Linked DNA regions of Homo sapiens. The protein of the gene in region 1 purifies or fractionates together with the protein of each later gene. This does not show direct contact. Each region holds a gene or a part of one and is shown in the gene's direction. Other genes may lie near its edges.

What was found.
Region 2: the proteins of CDH12 (region 1) and FRMD4A purify together in Homo sapiens (affinity purification with mass spectrometry; one large-scale study listed by BioGRID and IntAct). This does not show direct contact.
Region 3: the proteins of CDH12 (region 1) and CTNNA2 purify together in Homo sapiens (affinity purification with mass spectrometry; one large-scale study listed by BioGRID and IntAct). This does not show direct contact.
Region 4: the proteins of CDH12 (region 1) and PCDH1 purify together in Homo sapiens (affinity purification with mass spectrometry; one large-scale study listed by BioGRID and IntAct). This does not show direct contact.

The regions. Positions count from the first base shown.
Region 1 is NC_000005.10:22,846,105-22,850,708, reverse strand, and holds part of CDH12 (cadherin-12 isoform 1 preproprotein), read left to right. Parts: intron 1-4,604. UniProt on the Homo sapiens protein: Cadherins are calcium-dependent cell adhesion proteins. They preferentially interact with themselves in a homophilic manner in connecting cells; cadherins may thus contribute to the sorting of heterogeneous cell types.
Region 2 is NC_000010.11:14,323,752-14,328,355, reverse strand, and holds part of FRMD4A (FERM domain-containing protein 4A), read left to right. Parts: intron 1-4,604. UniProt on the Homo sapiens protein: Scaffolding protein that regulates epithelial cell polarity by connecting ARF6 activation with the PAR3 complex. Plays a redundant role with FRMD4B in epithelial polarization. May regulate MAPT secretion by activating ARF6-signaling.
Region 3 is NC_000002.12:79,911,194-79,915,797, forward strand, and holds part of CTNNA2 (catenin alpha-2), read left to right. Parts: intron 1-4,604. UniProt on the Homo sapiens protein: May function as a linker between cadherin adhesion receptors and the cytoskeleton to regulate cell-cell adhesion and differentiation in the nervous system. Required for proper regulation of cortical neuronal migration and neurite growth.
Region 4 is NC_000005.10:141,857,580-141,862,183, reverse strand, and holds part of PCDH1 (protocadherin-1 isoform 2 precursor), read left to right. Parts: intron 1-4,604. UniProt on the Homo sapiens protein: May be involved in cell-cell interaction processes and in cell adhesion.

The DNA.
Region 1 (4,604 bases):
ATGTCTCATTTAAAGTAAGATATTATCCTGTTCATCTTCTAGCAAATTATTGCTGTTTTAAAAGTAATTATGTCAGAAATTATCATGTGATCATTACATCAATAGAGAACATTTTGCTTATAATCTAGTACCAATTGATATTCCTATTTGTGTTAAATTATAGGTGGAAAATATTTATCCTTCCTGTTTAACAAATATTGCATTTTATTTTTATGAATAGGCTTAAATAGTACCCAAAAATACATTTAATTGTTAAATAAATGAAAATGTATTATTTTTACTGGGAGCTTTTTATTTTGCTAATACTGAATAACTGAACAATTTAAACTCAGAGCTTTTAAAAGCCTTTTAACTTTCAGCTTTAAGACAGTTGCAGCTTTTTCCTGACTTACTATGCTAGGAGGGTAATATATCATAACCAAACTTTAAAAGGAAAATGTGTGTGTGTGAATGTGTACTATGCTGCCTGTATTGAATATCAATAGTAGTTACTCAAAGTTGTTTTTAAGCATCTCATCATAAGATGATTAATAAAATGGAGTAAATAACTTTTTTACAACATATTAAGTGAGAGTTATGACTGTTCTAAAATTACAGATGAACTCTACATAATGTTATTCTACGTTTTGTGAGATTATAGATAAATGCTTTGAATTCAATTATTCAATTACTCAATTATTAATTATCACTTCATTTAGTAAGCACCTGTTAAATTATTGAAAACAAGGCATATGTTTACCAGTCTTATAAATTTAGCTGTATTCAGATTTGTGTCTATCATGTTATAGCTGATGGTATTAAGGGATAAATTAAATCTTCATTATGCTTCAGGTATTTTTTTACAGTGGTTTTCTTTCATAACCCTTGCTCCATGAATATTTAATCCATTGCTCTACAGATGGATTTATATTACCTTGAATGTAAGATATGTGTTTCTTGAACAATGTAAAATTCTTCTTAAAATATATACATCTCATGCATATATCTGTGAAGGTTCTAGTGAGAAACAATGAGACTCCAATCTGTACACCGATACCCATTAGGGAAATACAGGACTTACGTATTATTCCTTAAATCTATGTGTTCAAATGGATATATGTTACTCTTGCCTCTTCAAATGTATTAAGTTTTTACTATGTGTTCAAATGGCTGAATGATGCATGCTTGGTTCCAAGTCCAAATACATAGTCAAACATTAGGACACAGGTAGTGTATTTAGACTTACCGGCAAAGCACGATGCTAAATACAAGTAAGGTTGAATATACCTTTAGTACACCATAAAATCAATAGGTTCTATAATTCCAATTTCCTGGAAAATTATTATAACATACAAAAAAAATCCCCCATGTACAAAGATGAGAGTCCTGATGCACCGTCTACATGATGATGTGGAAAGTTCAAAACTTGAGTCAGACAATTGTTTGAAACCATAGTTTAAGGATTATTACATGAGCAATTTGGGAAAAGTTATTTAACTTTTTGAACTTTGAGTTATTCTGTTAATTTAATTTGAATTACCCCACAGATAACACTTATCATGGTCAGGTCTTTCTCCTTTTAACCTTCCTCATCTCTAAGCTAGATTTGTAGAGGATAACTACAGCCACAGCTGGAACATGGGGTTGGAAGAAAATATGTAATGTCCAGGGTTTGTTATGTGTTGAATTTTGTCACGTTGGGGTAAAAGGGGTTCCCAAGTGACTTGTCTAAAAAAAAAACATTTTTTGATGAAATGTGAGTCCTCACTCTGAAGAAGCACAATATATCCTAAACTTTATATGATATGATGAGAAAAAAAAATCCACACTTACGTACAGCATAAAAAAAGTACAATACAGAAAATAAAGATTTCCAAAATGGGGAAGAAAGACAGATTATCTACAAAATATAACAATTAGACTGAATCAGTATTCTCAGTGACAGCAAGGAGAGCCAAGAAATGTGTACCCATAATTCCATTATAACTCAAATAAAATAATTGCCAAGCTAGAGTTACACACTGAAGAAATTCTCTTTGAAAAGTAGAGACATTTTCAAACAAACAAAATCACCAGCATCCCTCCCTGATAAACTAACTAACCAATGTGCTTCAAGAAGGAAAATGATCCCAGACAGAAGATCTGAGATCCAAGAAGGACTGGGAAGCAAAGAAAATGGAGACCATGGGGGTGTGGGTAACAAACTTTGATCGTGTATGAACAATAATATTACAAATTTATGGTGTTACATAATTGAACTAAAATACTGGACAAGAATAACAAAATTGGGGGATAAAGTCTTGCAAGATGGTTACACTGTTTGAAGGAAAGAATAGGCTATTAATCTGGCACCACATTAGGTAAGTTAAAATGTAATCACTAAAAAGCAGCAATAGTATCAGTAATTGATTGATTAAGTAGATAAAACAATCACTTGAAGGTTAAAAAAAGAATGCTTTCAATGGACAGACATGGATATTCCTGGAATTTGAAAAATTAGTAAGTTTACATTGTGATGAAAGTTTTGCCATCATATTTCAAAAGGTTAACATGTCAAATAAAGAGACAACAGGAGGTAACCAGAGAGTTAGTACATAATGAAGGGAAATTTGTAGTATTTTGTTTTATAGAGACTTGAACACATGAATAGATAAAATAGAAAACATTAAAAAGAGACTGATCACCAGGCATGGTGGTGCACACCTTTCATCCCAGCTACTCAGGAGGCTGAGGCAGGAGAATCACTTGAACCCAGGAGGCGGAGGTTGCAGTGAGCCGAGATCGCACCATTGCTCTCCAGCCTGGGCGACAGAGTGAGACTCGGTCTCACAAGAAAAAAAAGAAAGAAAGAAAAAAAAAGAATAAAAGAAAGAGGCTGATCATACAGTAAAAGGGAATTAAATGATGGATTAAAGTTTTAGTGAACATGAAAGTTTATAATATCTGGAGGATAGATGAGGGATACAATTAGAAAATGTCATTAATTTTAATAATGCCAGTGATATACTATTTTTTTAAAAATCATATAATTTTATCTGGCACTTCAATGTTTATTCAAAAAAGGATTATTAGGAAATAACCAAAACGTGATGCTAATTAAACGATCAAAAATAATACTTTTAAATGTAATGGAAAGAGCTTCAAATGCTCAGTAAATGTTGAAAACCAGAGGAAATTAACATTAATAGTTTCCATTCTACAGTGAAAATATATTTTGGGGTGCTATCATCAGCACTAAATGAAATGATGTATTTAAGACGATTTCTGAGTAAAGAATGTAGGAATGATTGAAGTAACAGCAGATAACAATATACCCAAATGAAGTGTCTTCCTGCAACTTTCTGAGTCAATATTTCCATGAGGGGTTGCCATTATTTTAAGGGATGTGATTGCAGGCAGGTTTTAAAGCAAGATTTTACTGAAACTCTACACTTTCCTAATTACTAGGAAATGATAGTGACTGAAAAGTGCAAAACAAGCTCTTGGCAAGGCTTTAAGTTATATGTTTACTTAGGTAAGAATAGAAAACCTCAAATAAATTTCTCAAGTAAAAGAGTGTCTTATAGTGAGAAATCTAGTTATATTAATAACTATCCAGGATTTGTGCTTTAACACCTACTAGAAGAAGATCACCAATATAAGATCCTACAAGAAGGAAGCCCAGTATAACAACTGTTGTTGAGAATGGAATTGGAATGAATTGTAGTCGTGTCAATAACCTAACACATAGGGCAAATTCCTATTTATATTAAACATTAACAATAAAAATTTTAACAACGGTATTAAAAAAATTCTTTCATATACTCAAATCTCAACATTTTACATTTTGCTGACAATTAATTTTTATATGCCACAATTATATAACACCAGTGATGAGGGAAAGAGGTATAAATGAAAATATATGGCATGTGATCTGCCCTGGCCCAGAGGTTTACACACACCTCCAGATAGGGATATTGTCAAGCAGGTGTTACTTTTTAAAAACAAAAGTGAAGGTCATGCTTATTTAAAACACACAAAACATCACAAAAGCACAGACCTGTCTCATAGAGTTTTGGCTGGATTGTAAAATGTGGAATCTTTGGGAAGTAAATTTGACAGTATCCATCAAAATTCAAAATCCAGCAATTCTAATGTTTAGATGATTTTTTTCACATTAAATCTTTCATCTGCTTTTTCTTTATTAGTTTCTGGTTTTATTCTTTCATCACTGAGTGCTTCTTCTTATTCTCTTTTTCTGAGTTCTCTGTGTCTTTTGACCTGTAAATACATCTATCAGAGCATCCCAGGATACCATCATAGGCCCACTCATCTCTCTATCTAGAGAATCACTGAAGGGGTAATTGCATCCAGTAGCATGGGTTTAAATGCCATCTGGATGCTTTTTCCAAATCTATGCCTTTACTTCTAATCCCTCTGCTGACTTCAATTCAGAATGCCTGCTCAATATTTCTATCTAGGAATCTAACAGTCACTTGAAACCCAACTTGTTCAAAACCAGACTTTTCATTTCTGCCCCTCTTTACCGCACCCTAAATATACCCATTTTCCTAATCTTCTTTATCTCAGTAAATAACATAATTATCCATCCAATTTCTTAAGACCTAAGGGTCACTTCTGAGACT
Region 2 (4,604 bases), on another chromosome or scaffold:
ACAGGCTCTTCTGGTCCTGGGTCTTCCACATATTATGGCTGCTGTCCTGGTAGTGTCTACATCTCAGACTTCACCTTCCATTTGTCAGTGGCCTCTGCCCTTAGATCTGTCCCTGGCACTCTCCTCCTGCCCGGAAAAAAGGATCGTGTTCTCCTCTCTTGGAAACCAGGGGAAAGAGCTCTTGACACCCTGATGGACCGTTTGATTAAAGAACCCTGGAGTACCATGTGTAATCAAAGTCTGTATACATTTTCTGGTTCATGTTTAGTTCAGGGAAATTTTCCCCTATGGACTTTGGTGCTATTTTTTTTCCTTTTTAAGGGTAAACCCCAAAGTAATTGCTTCCCTGACATCTTGCATGATGCATCTTAAAATTTATAAGCAAGCCGAGGAGGAAAGAAAGGAGGAAAAGAGGCCATTTAGCGGAGTTGCTTTGGCTGTGAGTTCAGGAAGGAAGCTGTAAACATTATTATTTATGAGCTCATTCATCAGCCAATCAGTTGTCAGTATTTATCGCGTGTCTGCTCACTGAGGAAAGTAGCCTGGCATAACAGCAAGAGCCAGAGCTCATAAACACACAGTCTGTGGGAGGCTGATACCAGGTTGGTGGATTGCAGTTCTGATTTTGTGCTATGGAGTCATCGGGGCTAAGGGGTAGGTGGGGAGATGATCTGGCCACACCCCTTGCTTTTGGATAAGGAGACACCCAGAGGTTACATTCAGCTTAGATGCTAAATGCTTCAGGGCAGAGCATGTTTAATTGGTTACAGAAGCGGCCACAGAGTCTGGAGGGTTGGACAGCCCTGTGCTCCATTCTAGCCTTGCCACTCATTGAGTGATCCTGGGAATGTCCCTTCCTTTCTCTGCCTTGGTGATGCCATTTGCTAACTGAGAGTGCTCTCTGATGTCTAGGTTCCCTTCCATTCTGTTAAACACAATTTAAGATCTCTAAGAAACAGTGTACAGATGAAGTTCCAGGATAGCCAATTCGAGGGCTTTATTTAGCGTTATGTCTCTATTTCCAACCTTGCACATGAGCAGTATTGCTATGAAAATGGTGGAGTGTGTTCCCACTCTGGCTTTTATGCTAGGGCAGATATGTTTCATATTATTAGCTGACACGGATGATCATTAGTGTTCATTCATACTCTGCCATCAGGAGTCTACCCCACAGGAACCTAAGTTGGTCCATTGGACAAAAGCCAATGACTTTTGAACAGTGTCTCAGAGGCCTTTTCAAGCTAGGGCTGGGTTGCGGTCAGCTGGGAGGGGTCCCAGGTGGTAAGCATGCCTGGACCATCTTGAGGTGGGAGGACCTCACTGATTCTTTCAACGGACAGCTCACAGAGGGCAGTGATGCCTCTCCACACAGGACAGAGCCACTCATATGACCACGGAAGGGGGGACTTGGAGAGAAGACACATTCTGGTGGTGGAGATGGCCTTTTAGGCTGTTGAAAAGCTGCCTCTCCCATCTTTGCAAGAATCTCAGGCAGCGAAAGAAGATACTGCTGTGTTCACCAACCCGTGAGGAGGCTTCAGATTGATGTGACTAATTGTAGAGCGGGAAGCTCTTGGCTACGTGTCATTTGTTGAGGGCGTGTGAGTTCAGGGAAAGCTGCAAGGGCTGGAACATGCTAGAGCCGAGGATTAGTTTATCTTTAGAGCCAGGATAAGGATGAATAACCAAGGGGCTTCAAGGGTGTTATGATGCCATTTCGGTTCTTAGATTATAAAGGCTCACCTTCAGGACAGCTAGATTAAAATAGTTTTTAATGGAAATTAACTGGATAATAAATAATGCAAATTAAGCTTTTCTATAAATGAAGTGTCTTTAAATACATTATCTCATTTAATTCCATCCATGACCCTATTTTTAAGACCAAAAAAAATCTGATAATTAGAATTTGGGAAACTGTCAATGGTCACATAAGTGAAACTGATGAAGCAAGTTCTCAAAATCTCGGTCCTCTGAGTCCCAAGCCAGTGCTTTCTCTGACAGCATATCAAAGCTCAACAATTTGACTTCTAGGACCTTCTAACACTTTGGATTCGCTCCTGAAGTTAGCTCCCCTCTGAACCAGTCAGCATTTTCTGTGTTTCCAGGTGAGGAATCCTGTCTTTCTGTTAATCATCTGTTCTTTTCCATATTGAAGTGTAAAATAAAAAAGGGATACCACAAGTCTGGCTCAAGATGTCTGGCTTGACTCTAGCAAGAAAAAATATTTTTTTATATCGATGAAATAGCTGCCATTTTTTCAAGGTTCTATTCTCTCAGACTCTGTTTCTAGGAAATTACTGAGAGTCATATTTTATAACATAAAAAATTAAATGTATAAAAACTCAATTCACAAGTCAGAGAAGTTAGTGGGTGATTAACCACAATGAATGAAGAATGTCAATTGGATTATCCTGAAGTTTCTTTCCATTCTAAATATTTGATTTCAGATTTCTGGGCTTCTTTTGAATAGACCAGCTCCCTTGTCTATGTTTAATAGATTTCAATGGGTAACCTGCTGTTCTATGAGTTTATCTCCCTCATTTCATTTCTTTATAAATTCTTTTCTAAGCCATTTTCCTCCTTTGGACAATTTCCTTTTTAACTAACCAACAAATATTTGCTGAGTATCTACTTTGTGCAAGAAGAGTACAAGGCAGTGACTGGCTTTAGCATACTTACAGTCTAATTGTCAAGACAGGTTGGAGATACGCAGGAACTGTAACAATGAGAAATTTACAGGACGTCTTCAGAGAATCACATAAGAACTATAACAAAACAGTGCCTAACTCATCACCAAGTGAGCCCTAGGGGGCGCTGGTTGTCAGAGTGGATGAACTTGTTCTTGAAGTTCAAGCAAGATGTTGAGTGATGGATGAGTTAAGAGAGCAGATTTGAGGTGAGGGGAGTGGTTGAATACAACAAAGTCTGGATCTTGTTTGGGAGACGGGGAGTAGACTGGTTTGGGCAGATTTCCTGTAGGTGACAAAGGGTTGCAAGATCAGAAAGGCCAGTTGGAGATGTGATCAAGGTCCTAGTTCTATTACTATAATCTAATCCTTCTCTACATTTGACCTGTGAGAGGTCTAATCTGATAGATTCAGATTAGATCCTGAAAAGAGATTCAGAATTTGTAATAAGCCTATGGCTTTTCCGCAGATCCCAACTGTCAAAAAGCATAGAATAAAATTGAGTTTTGTCTTAAGGACTCTTGCTCTTACATTAATAATCTCTATGTTTTTCAAAGTGCGTTTGCAGATGTTGTCCCACCGGATGTCCTCAACACTCCAGGCAGGTTAGGCAGGACATCTTCCTATTATATGGTGAAGTTGGGGTCCAGAGAAGTCAAAGGGCTTGCCCAAGATGACTCAGATAATTTGCGATAAAATTTAGATACAGGCCAGGTGCGGTGGCTCATGCCTGTAATCCCAGCACTTTGGGAAGCTGAGGCAGGCAGATCACCTGAGGTCAGGTGTTTGAGACTAGCTTGGCCAACATGGTGAAACCCCATCTCTACTAAAAATACAAAAATTAGCAAGGCGTGGTGGGGTGCACCTGTAGTCCCACCTGCTTGGGAGGCTGAGGCAGGAGAATCACTTGAACCAAGGAGGCAGAGGTTGCCGTGAGCCGAGATCGGCGCACGCCACTGCACTCCAGCTTGGGTGACAGAGCGGGACTCCATCTCTAAATAAATAAATAAATAAATAGCATTAAGATAGTACTCAAGTTTTCATGATGGTTCATGCATATGTTTGAAAAAAAGTGATATTGACAACTTTTATGGAAATTTGGAGAATAATAATTACATAGTAATACAGTGAAGCCACCTAAACCACTGTATACAGAATGGGGCCATCCAGGCATGGGGCCCAGGGGAGAGGTCCTAGATATTTGGGTCTAAGGGCGAAACTAATATTTAGTATCATCTATCTTTCTGGTTTATTCATAAGTAAGATAATTGTCAAAAAGTCCCTGAGAAATGGTCATGTCATTGTTACCTCCAAGTCAGTGGCAAAAACCCTTCTTAAGCTTAAATTATTGCACCCAAGGTAAAATTTCCCAATGGGTATCTTTGAGATCTTGCTATTAATATTTTTAGTTACTATTTAGTGTACAAATTTATCTGTTTCAAATGGTGAAATTTGAAATCCATAACTGTAAAACTAACTCAGATGATTTTTTGCTAAATATATTTTTATTTCATTTTCTGCTGGACCTGTTTCTGTTAGTCTAATCGACAGAGACTAACTCAAACTGCTAGCATTGGCAGAAAGGGAAACTTACTGACTGATGTGACCAGGGAGTCTCAGGAATAAAAGAGCTCCAGGAGAAGCTGGATCAAGGACTTTGCATGGTGGCATCTGAACCCTGTTTCTCTGGCTCTGCCATGTCTTGGCTCTGCTTTTCTTTGTGTGGACTTCATTTTCTGGCAGATTCTTCTCCCAGCAGCTCTAGGGTTACTTGTTCTTAGAGTTAGTGAATGTAGGTAAATGAGCAGGACTCTCTTTCATGGTCATCTCTTACAAGCTGTCTTTGGATCTCTTGAATAACAGGCTCTTCGCGGGCCAATTACTGGGTACAGAGATGGAGATTTCTGACTAATCAGG
Region 3 (4,604 bases), on another chromosome or scaffold:
CAGATGTGTCAACGAAGAATGCTTATGAAATCTGAGACGCTGTTTGTTTGTTCGTTGTTGTTGTTAACAAAATAGCAAAGGGCTAATTACATGGATGTGGAATTTGGTTTTACATTAAGGCACGCTAGTGGTTCTATTAATGAATAGTTACTGCCAAAGAAGGAAGTAGAAACTACAGAGATCACAGTGATGGTTAAGATCTCAATATAAATAAATCAGACAAAAAAGTATGTTCTTCTAAATAGAAATCACAGAACGTGACTAAATAAGAGTTGATCAACACGTGACATGTAATTTTCAGTTTGGTGTCTAGAATCCTGCCAACTAGAAGTTTTTCTTTCAGTGTAATCTCATGCAGATCAGCAGAGCTGATGGATTTTTGTATTTTATTGACTCCAGGCACTTTTTGTTTTCTGTTCGCAGCCTCGTGATGCAGGAATGTTTTGTGCTTTATTGAAATCTTAGTTTCTATTTTGACATGGTTACAGACAATACATCAATGGGTATAGTGCTTAAATTTCAAAATGCACAAGTTCTATTCACATTGAACCATCATGATCAAAGCCTGAAATAAAACACCTCCTACTTGACATTTATGTAAACTGTATAACATTTAGTTGGACTTCACACTTGTTTGGTGATTTCAAGGTAGAATTGGATGCAGCCAGATCACCTTCATAATTCCTGTCCAGTGCACTCATTTCTCCTGCTGCACAGTCAATTTGTATTTATTTTGATATAGCATGTATGAATACAAAAACACATACACATCCATGCCCTGACTGAAAAGTCTATTGTAGTTAACAGCAAACAGTAAATCAGTCTATCGTTCCTGGGCTGTTATCTTTCTCTTTCAATTTCATAAGCTCTGAGAATAAAGGTATTATCAAATGATCACCTTGCAAGTTTTCATCCTAATGTGCTAGGCAGTACCATTAGGATAAACAAGTTGTTAAACTGAAAATATTTAAAAATCAGCATAACTGACATTTCTGTTTTCTAAAAATCTCCTCATCAGTCCCAGATGAACATTCCACTTACACAATGCTTGCTTGTGGCTGAAGCTGTTCTAAAATTGTATACATGCCAAATTGTATGACACAGAGGGAGACAGAGGTTGTGGAGAGAAGCTGTGTATCACACCTGATAGAAAAAGGGTCTTCATGGAGCATGGGCTATGACTTAGCCACGTAGCTTCCATTGAGCTCAATAGGATAGCAGTCACATGTTAGATATTTCCACAAATGTGTATTCTACTTAATGAACGTGGGTGTGCAACTTGAAGATGTCAACAGAATTGTGCAGTTAAAAGAAGTGGTGATATTTGAAAAAAGGCTGGGTGAACAGAGGCATGGGGTGAAAATCATCACAGATCATGGCGGTGGTAGAAAGGATGGTTGGAATTCTTTTAGGAAAGCCTTGGCTAGACTTAAGTTGCTTTATCAAGTTGAAGATATAATCCAAAGTGAAAAGATTCTTAAAAAATAATCCCCCTTTAAGTAAACTATTATTATTGTACATATGTGAAGACTAATGGGTAGAGAGAGACTTAAAAGGATGCGCGGCCTATAGATGTTAATTGGGATGAGTGCCGTCAGTGTGGTGGTTGAAGTATTATGCTGAGTACTTTAAATAGTTCCAAATTATAGTGAACACATAAACCTTCCTTGGGAACTTATAATTTTATGCAGCTTTCTTTGGTGGCAGTATAAACATAACATTTTATGGGTTTTATTAATAAGAATATTGTGAGGAATGCAAATTTAGAATATTTTATTCATTCAACAAATGTGTATTGTCTGCTGGCCATTTGTGCCAGGCATTGCTCTAGGCTTCTGGGGATACAGAAAGTACCAGAACAGGTAAAATTCTCTGCTTGCTCTCATGCAGCTTACACTGTTGTGGGAGGAGACAGACAGTAAATACTAAGTGATATGAGCAAGAGTCACTTCAGATAGTGATATATGCAAAGAGGAAGTCTAAAACATGGGAGTTAGAGGACGCTGGGTAGTACTGAAGTTAAGAATGGCCTAGGAAGGTGCGTTGAAAGGATGACATTAGATCAAAGACTTCTCAGAAGTGAGGAAGCAAAGAGGCCTTGAGGAGGAAGGGATGACAAGGTCAAGGGCCTTGCTGTGAATGGGTGCCTGGTGCACCCACCCGTTTGAAGCACCATGGGAGTCACAGCAGCTATTGTGAGTAGAGGGGTAGCAGGAGATGGCGTCTGTATGGTGCTGAGGCATCAGTCGGTGCAGGGTGTGGTGAACCATTATACAGAATTTGACTTTCATTCTAATGGAATGAGAGGCCATTGCACAGTAGTGAGTGAAAAATGCCATGATTCAGGTGCTGAGAACAGGCCACAAAGGCAAAAGGCGTAAAAGCAGGAGGACAGGTGAGGAGGCCCTGCGTCCCGTAATATTCATGAGAGGATGGTCTCTTGGGCCAGGGGATAGCAATAGAAGTGGCATAAAGTATTCAAATACTGACTATAAATAAAATTTGCTTATAAATTAACTAGTAAGAAGAATGTGTCTGTTTTATGAACATAAAATCAATATTTGCATTTTGGATGATTTGCATTTTGAATGACAGTTGCAGTTGTATCAATTGCAGCTCATATGATATCTTCATTTGGTTTTGGTTGCACAGGAAATTCTGATTTACTTGGGTGTTGAAAGTAGCTTACTTGGGCCGGGCACGGTGGCTCACGCCTGTAATCCCAGCACTTTGGGAGGCCGAGGCGGGCGGATCACGAGGTCAGGAGATCGAGACCATCCCGGCTAAAACGGTGAAACCCCGTCTCTACTAAAAATACAAAAAATTAGCCGGGCGTAGTGGCGGGCGCCTGTGGTCCCAGCTACTCGGGAGGCTGAGGCAGGAGAATGGCGTGAACCCGGGAGGCGGAGCTTGCAGTGAGCCGAGATCCCGCCACTGCACTCCAGCCTGGGCGACAGAGCGAGACTCCGTCTCAAAAAAAAAAAAAAAAAAAAAAAGAAAGTAGCTTACTTGGCAATGCCTGGACACTCTGCTAGACAGATTGCATTTGAAAGGGGAGTTAAGTAGAAAAATTTTGTTTCAACGTTGTATCACCAAAAATGTCTAAGTATGGTTCACATTCTTATAAAAGACTAGAAAAATTTAATACTTATTCTAAGTATTAAACTGTAATGCAGAACTGTAAGGAGAAAAATTACTACTTATTCTAGGTACTAAAACTGTAAATGAAGAACAATAAGGAAATTCATTAAACTGTTACTTCTTTATGCACAATTCATGGTTAGGCCTATGATGAGAATATGCAATGAGCAGATGTGCCTGGTCCTTGTTGTGTCTTGTGCTGCTGTACAACCTGTTTCAATTTTATATGCATAAACTCTCTGTGTAGCTCGAATTTTTTTTAAGACTAATTTAGAGCTACAGTTTTCTTAAACAATCATGCAGTTAAACTATTTTCAAATGATGGCAGAGATCCTGGTGGCATAAAGTAATGCTGCTGTTCTCTGCTGTAAAATATGGTGAGACATTTTTAATTGTATTTTTAAAAATAATTACAATTGTATATTTTTTTAAATTTTGGATCCAACTTTTTTTCAAGCCTCTTGAAGCATCTAAGTGGATCCCTGGGGTTAACAATTTATAAACCATTAATATATAGAAGGTATTAAAAGCACATGAAGACATATTGATATGGGAACATATATACATATTACAAGTGTTTGAAGCATTGTCATAGCCTTTGTTAGAGAGTAGAATTTAACATAAAGTGGGTTCCTGAAGGAGCCCACTTGTGAGGATTTGAGGACTAAAATAGGATCTAAAAAGGTTATTTCCAGCCCGGTTTTATGGCCTATACACAGCAAGCCTCCAGCATGCTGTTCCACAACACTAGATGAGTAATACATGAGATGATATCCAGGGCCACGAGATCTCTAAGAATGTGGCTTTTACATTTTTGTATAGTGGAAAAGAAATATATGTTCACTAGAAAGAACAAAAAGACAAAGAAGAAAATAAAACATCTCATCCCCCAAAATAACTGCTAATAATTTGGTATGTGTCTTTCCAATGTTTCTGAGCATATAGGAGTGGTATATTTACACACACACACAAACACACACACACACACACACACACATTACACTTTGCTTATTTTTTATAAAATGGACTCATATTGTAAATGCTGTTTTGCAATCTATTCTCTTTACTCAATATATTGTGAATATGTTACCATATCAATAAACATTCTCTAACCTTATGTTTACTGGCTGCATAGCATTTTATTATATGAATATGTGATAATTCATTTAGAAGCAATTCATTTTGAGTGTATTTTTAGGGAAGAGCCTTGGAAAAGATAAGTAGGGAAAACTTTTCCTGCTGGCAGTACAGAGTTCTGATTTTAGACCCAAAGCGTGACTAGGAACAAAATGAGAACGAAGTGAGGACACAGCTTTACAGTTTCTGTGGTTCAGGGGATCCCTGACAAGTCTTGTGCAATCGGATTTTTGCATATAAACAAAATTTAAGTGCCTCTGGGATTCTATTTGAAATAATCTTATGTTTATTTATATTCATTTTCTATATAAATCTGATTTTTATCT
Region 4 (4,604 bases), about 120 Mb from region 1:
CCCCAGGGCAAGTCCTTCCCTCAAGTCCCTTCCCCAGCCTCTTCATCCCAACAACAGGCAACACCCAGCAATTCGCTGGCCCTCCCCTGTGTCTCCCCACCATGATCACCAGCCTGAGCTGCAGGGAGCGGGGCCCTGGGGGAGACATGGCGAATTCCTAAGTTCTTTGCATTGACCTGCCCTGCACCCCCACTCTTAGGGGGTTCCCTGCTCATGAGCAGAGGCTTCCTAGTTCTGCCTTCCGCCTGTGATGCTACCTCCCTCCCCACTTTCCACTCCTTGCTCTGGCCACCCTGGGTTGCTTGCTTGCACTCTCTCTCTCTCCATCTCTCACTTCTTGCTCTCCTGGGTCTGCCCTGTCTCTGGTTGTGCCTGAGTTGGAGGAAGGCTAAATCGTGGCTGAGGGGCCTCAGGCCCTGGGGGAGTCTCTGAGGCCAGAGGCAACCTATCTCCATGGTGACTAAAGAGGCTTGAGACACTCCCAAGAGGACCAAGGCTCCAGCTCTCTCCTCTGATTCCATCCACAAATTCCCCCAATGCCCTGGGGGGCCCCCAAAGTAAAAACTCCTTGGGTCCTTGGAGGAGTGGGGCCTGGGGAAGTGAGATCTAACCATATCGTGATCTCCAGCAACTCCTGACCTCCCATTCTTTCTCTTCCTTTTCTGTCCTTTCTGGCATTCCTTCCGTCTTTCTCCTATTCCTTTAGCGTCTTCATCTCTTTTTCTTTCCCATGATCTGAGGGATTGTCTCTTACTCAGCTCTAATCCAACCTAACCCATCCATGGAGCCACACTGAATGTCTTCTCCCAACATTCAGATACAACCAAACCACACCACCTGTTGTCATCATCAACACACACAGGCCAAGTTTCCACTGAGTACTCAGCATGGTACTAGACCCTGATGAAAAAATGGCCATACTTGTACAAGACAGACAAGTGAACGATGAGGCAATTGAGTGTCTTGAGTCGAATGAGAAGTGCCCTACTAAAGCTTTTCCCAACTTATTCCATGAAACTACTTCTACTGCTACTGCTCACTTCCTTTTTTTTTTTTTTTTTTTTTTTTGAGATGGAGTTTTGCTCTTGTTGCCCAGGCTGGAGTGCAATGGCACGATCTCAGCTCACTGCAACCTCTGCCTCCCAGGTTCAAGCAATTCTCCTGCCTCAGCCTCCTGAGTAGCTGGGATTACAGGCATGTGCCACCACACCCAGCTAATTTTGTATTTTTAGTAGAGACAGGGTTTCTCCATGTTGGTCAGGCTGGTCTTGAGCTCCTGACCTCAGGCGATCTGCCCGCCGTGGCCTCCCAAAGTGCTGGGATTACAGGCATGAGCCACCATGCCCGGCACTCACTTCCATTTTTTGAGTCCTTACTAGGTGTGAGGTACCATGCTAAGCACTTTGTGTGAATTAGTTCAATCAGTGCTCATAACTCTTTATGATATGGGTCATTTTAATATTAATTTTGCAGAAGTGAAAACTAAATAGTGATGCAGCCAAATTCAAACACAAAGCAGGCGGGTCTCCTATTACCTATTATGCTATAAAAAAGGCGTTCTGTGGTGAAGTTAGTTTTGGTAGTAAGAAATTCATGATCACATTAGCCTATTAAAGGCTCTGCAGAGTCCTCCAAAAAAGGGGGAACCTGTTAGACTTCGTTTAACCTTTTTTTTTTTTTTTTTTGAGACAGGGTCTTGCTCTGTCACCCAGGCTGGAGTGCAGGGGCGCAATCTTGGCTCATTGCAACCTCTGCCACCTGGGCTCAAGCGATCCTCCTGTGTAGCTGGGACTACAGTCGTGCACCACCACACCTGGCTAATTTTTGTAATTTCTGTAGAGACAGGGTTTTGCCATGTTGCCCAGGCTGGTCTCAACTCCTGGGCTCAAGCGATCTGCCCACCTCAGCCTCCCAAAGTGCTTGGATGACAGGTGTGAGCTGCCGTGCCTGGCCCCAATTTTGTTTACCTCTTGAGTTTTCTGAATTTATTTCACCATATTGCCCCTCCCTTCCTTTGACGAGCACAGTATGGGAAAACTTGTACAAGACATGGAAATGGGCTTCTGGAAGGAGAAAGTCAGCTTGTCAATGATGAGCAGGATTAGGGCAGGAGGGTCCCCTGCCTCCTCACAGGGTCACCGTGTAAGCAAACTCCTGCGGCAGAAGTGAACCAAGTTGGAGGCAGGGAAAGGGCAGAAAAAGGAATATTCTGGCAAGAAGAGGGGCATAAGAGAAAGCTGAAAGATGAGACTGGAAGAACTGTAGGTTGTAGAGGACATAGGTGCCTTACCAAAAGTTCTTCAGAAGGAACTAGTCCCTGAAAGCTCATGAGTGTTTTAGATGAACTGAGTTTTAGAAAGAGCACTGGAATATATGGTGGGCTTAAAAGGGCATAGAGATGAAGGTACAGGACTGAACCTCTAAGAGTTGGACTATGATGGTGGCAATGGGGGTGATGGATGGATGGATTTGGCAAAGGTTAGGGAGAAAGGACCCACAGGATTCAAGGGATAATTGGATATGAGGTAGGGATAGGGAATGAGGGGAGAGCTACCAGGATTCTCAGGTAGACATCAGCCTTCTGAGTCTGGGTGATAGGATAGTGATGAGATCATTGCCCATACAGAAGCTAATTGAAGAAGCATTTGGTTTCAGACATGTTGAATCTTAAGGGCCAGTAGGCAGAGCCAACTGGAAATAATCAGCAAGTGTCTAGAGCTTCAGGACTCAAAGAGTTTGAGAGAGATTTTTTGATCTGGGCTTTTATAATTTGATAGTCATAAAATTAGAGGGAACATTAAGTGTTGGGTATAACCCAACCCTCCATTTTATGGAAAAGAATCATGGGAAAAGAGACCAAGCGACTTGCTTAGTAGGCAGGACCAAAGCCTTCAATTACCAGATATGGGTTCTGCAGGGAGGTGGGACTGCTGGCCAGTATCTTGAAAGAAAACTGGAAAGAGAAGCACCAACAACCATGTTGCCCTGTGCCTCCCAGACCCCTCCTGGACCCTAATCACCCCTACACCAGGTGGACTACACTCCTTTATAGCCTCCCGGCCCCAAACATCCATGTTAGTTTTGGGGACCTTATCAGTCATCACCCAGACCCTTCAGTGTTTTAGATCAATACAAGGATTCCAAGAACGGTCGCTTATTCCTGAAGATGAGGTGGGAGCCATCTTCAGGAATGGGGATAGTGGGGAGGCAGTTCTGGGCTACCTTCACAGCAGCTCCAAAACTCCTGTCCTGACAGCCTCTTCCACCCTAGCTGCCTTGAATGGGGCTATTAGGAGGGTAAGTCTACAAAGCCAGGGCCACCTCCCCTGGCCATCTTCATAACCTCCTATCCAGAGTTATAGAGTAAGACAAAGCACTGCCAAAGTCTTGGAGGATGGGAAGGAGCTTAGAGACTCATCAGCAGGGCCCTGGGCTTAGCTGTTTTCACCCCTGGCCTCCAGGGACCCTGAGTCTGCACCCTCCACAACTCCTAATTTCTGGTTGGCAGGAAAATCTGTGGCAGTCCCAAGTGGGTATTTGGGTGGCTGGCTGGTTGTGCCAAGTGCCAAGTTGAGATTGCCAGGTTCCAGGGCTGATCGTTAACCTGTGGCAGGCATACAGGGCTGCTGGCTGGGAGCAGCCTGTCACGGTTCCACTCCCCCGACCCCCAGTCCCCAGTCCAAGCCTCCAAGTCTGGCTCCTCATGCCAGCAGCCCTCCCAGAAGCTCCTTCCTATTTCCTGGAAGGAGTCTCCCTTTGAGACCAGCTTTCCTAATCCCTAATGGGTGCCATGCCCTCTCCCCATGTCCAGGCTCCTGGCAGAGCCCTACCCTCTCCAGTGAATATTCTATTTCCTGATCGGGAGGACTGGGGAGTTTCCATTGTTCTGCTTTGTCCCCTTCCCCCAGGTGCCCTGGTTTGTTATCAGGCTCCTCCCTTTTTTTCCACTCCCAGGCCTCTCTGGAGGGGAGTGAAGTGGGGATGGGGGGCTGAGTGGGAGGGGCGACAGCAGGGAGTCTTCAGACTGCTGCAACATCACAAACCAGGGATGAGGAACACAGGATAAGAAAAGAAAGGTTGTTCCCTCATTTGGAAGGAGGCAGTGGCAAGAGCAGTGAGACAGGTGAGGAGCTGGAGTTTGGAGGGTGCTGTTTGGAAATGAGGGAACTAACTGTTGTGGTATTGGTGAGCTGTTTGGGAGTTAGGAGTCTGCTTCTTTTAGGAAGCTGTTCTAGAAACTGCAGGCTATGCTGGTGTTTAGAGGCTGAGCTGGAATTAGGGGAGTCGGGTGGTATTATGTTACTCTGGTATTGGGCTCTACACCGTATTACAGGTCATTCTGGGATTAAAGGGAGGCTGTGCCAATATTGGGAAGCTGGGTTAGAACTAGAAGGGTTGTGCTATAACAAGCGGTTGCACTGGATGAGGGTTATTGGGGTAGCATAGGGGCTATAATAACACTGGGGCCTGCGCTGTATTGGGACTTCCAGTATGTGGACTTGGCTGTACTAGGAGCGGTCCTAGAACTCAGGAGCTGTCTTTCACTGGGGCCTGTGCTTTCGGGAGGAATGTGCTGTGCTGGGGCCTGGGTCTCTTCTTGGTTG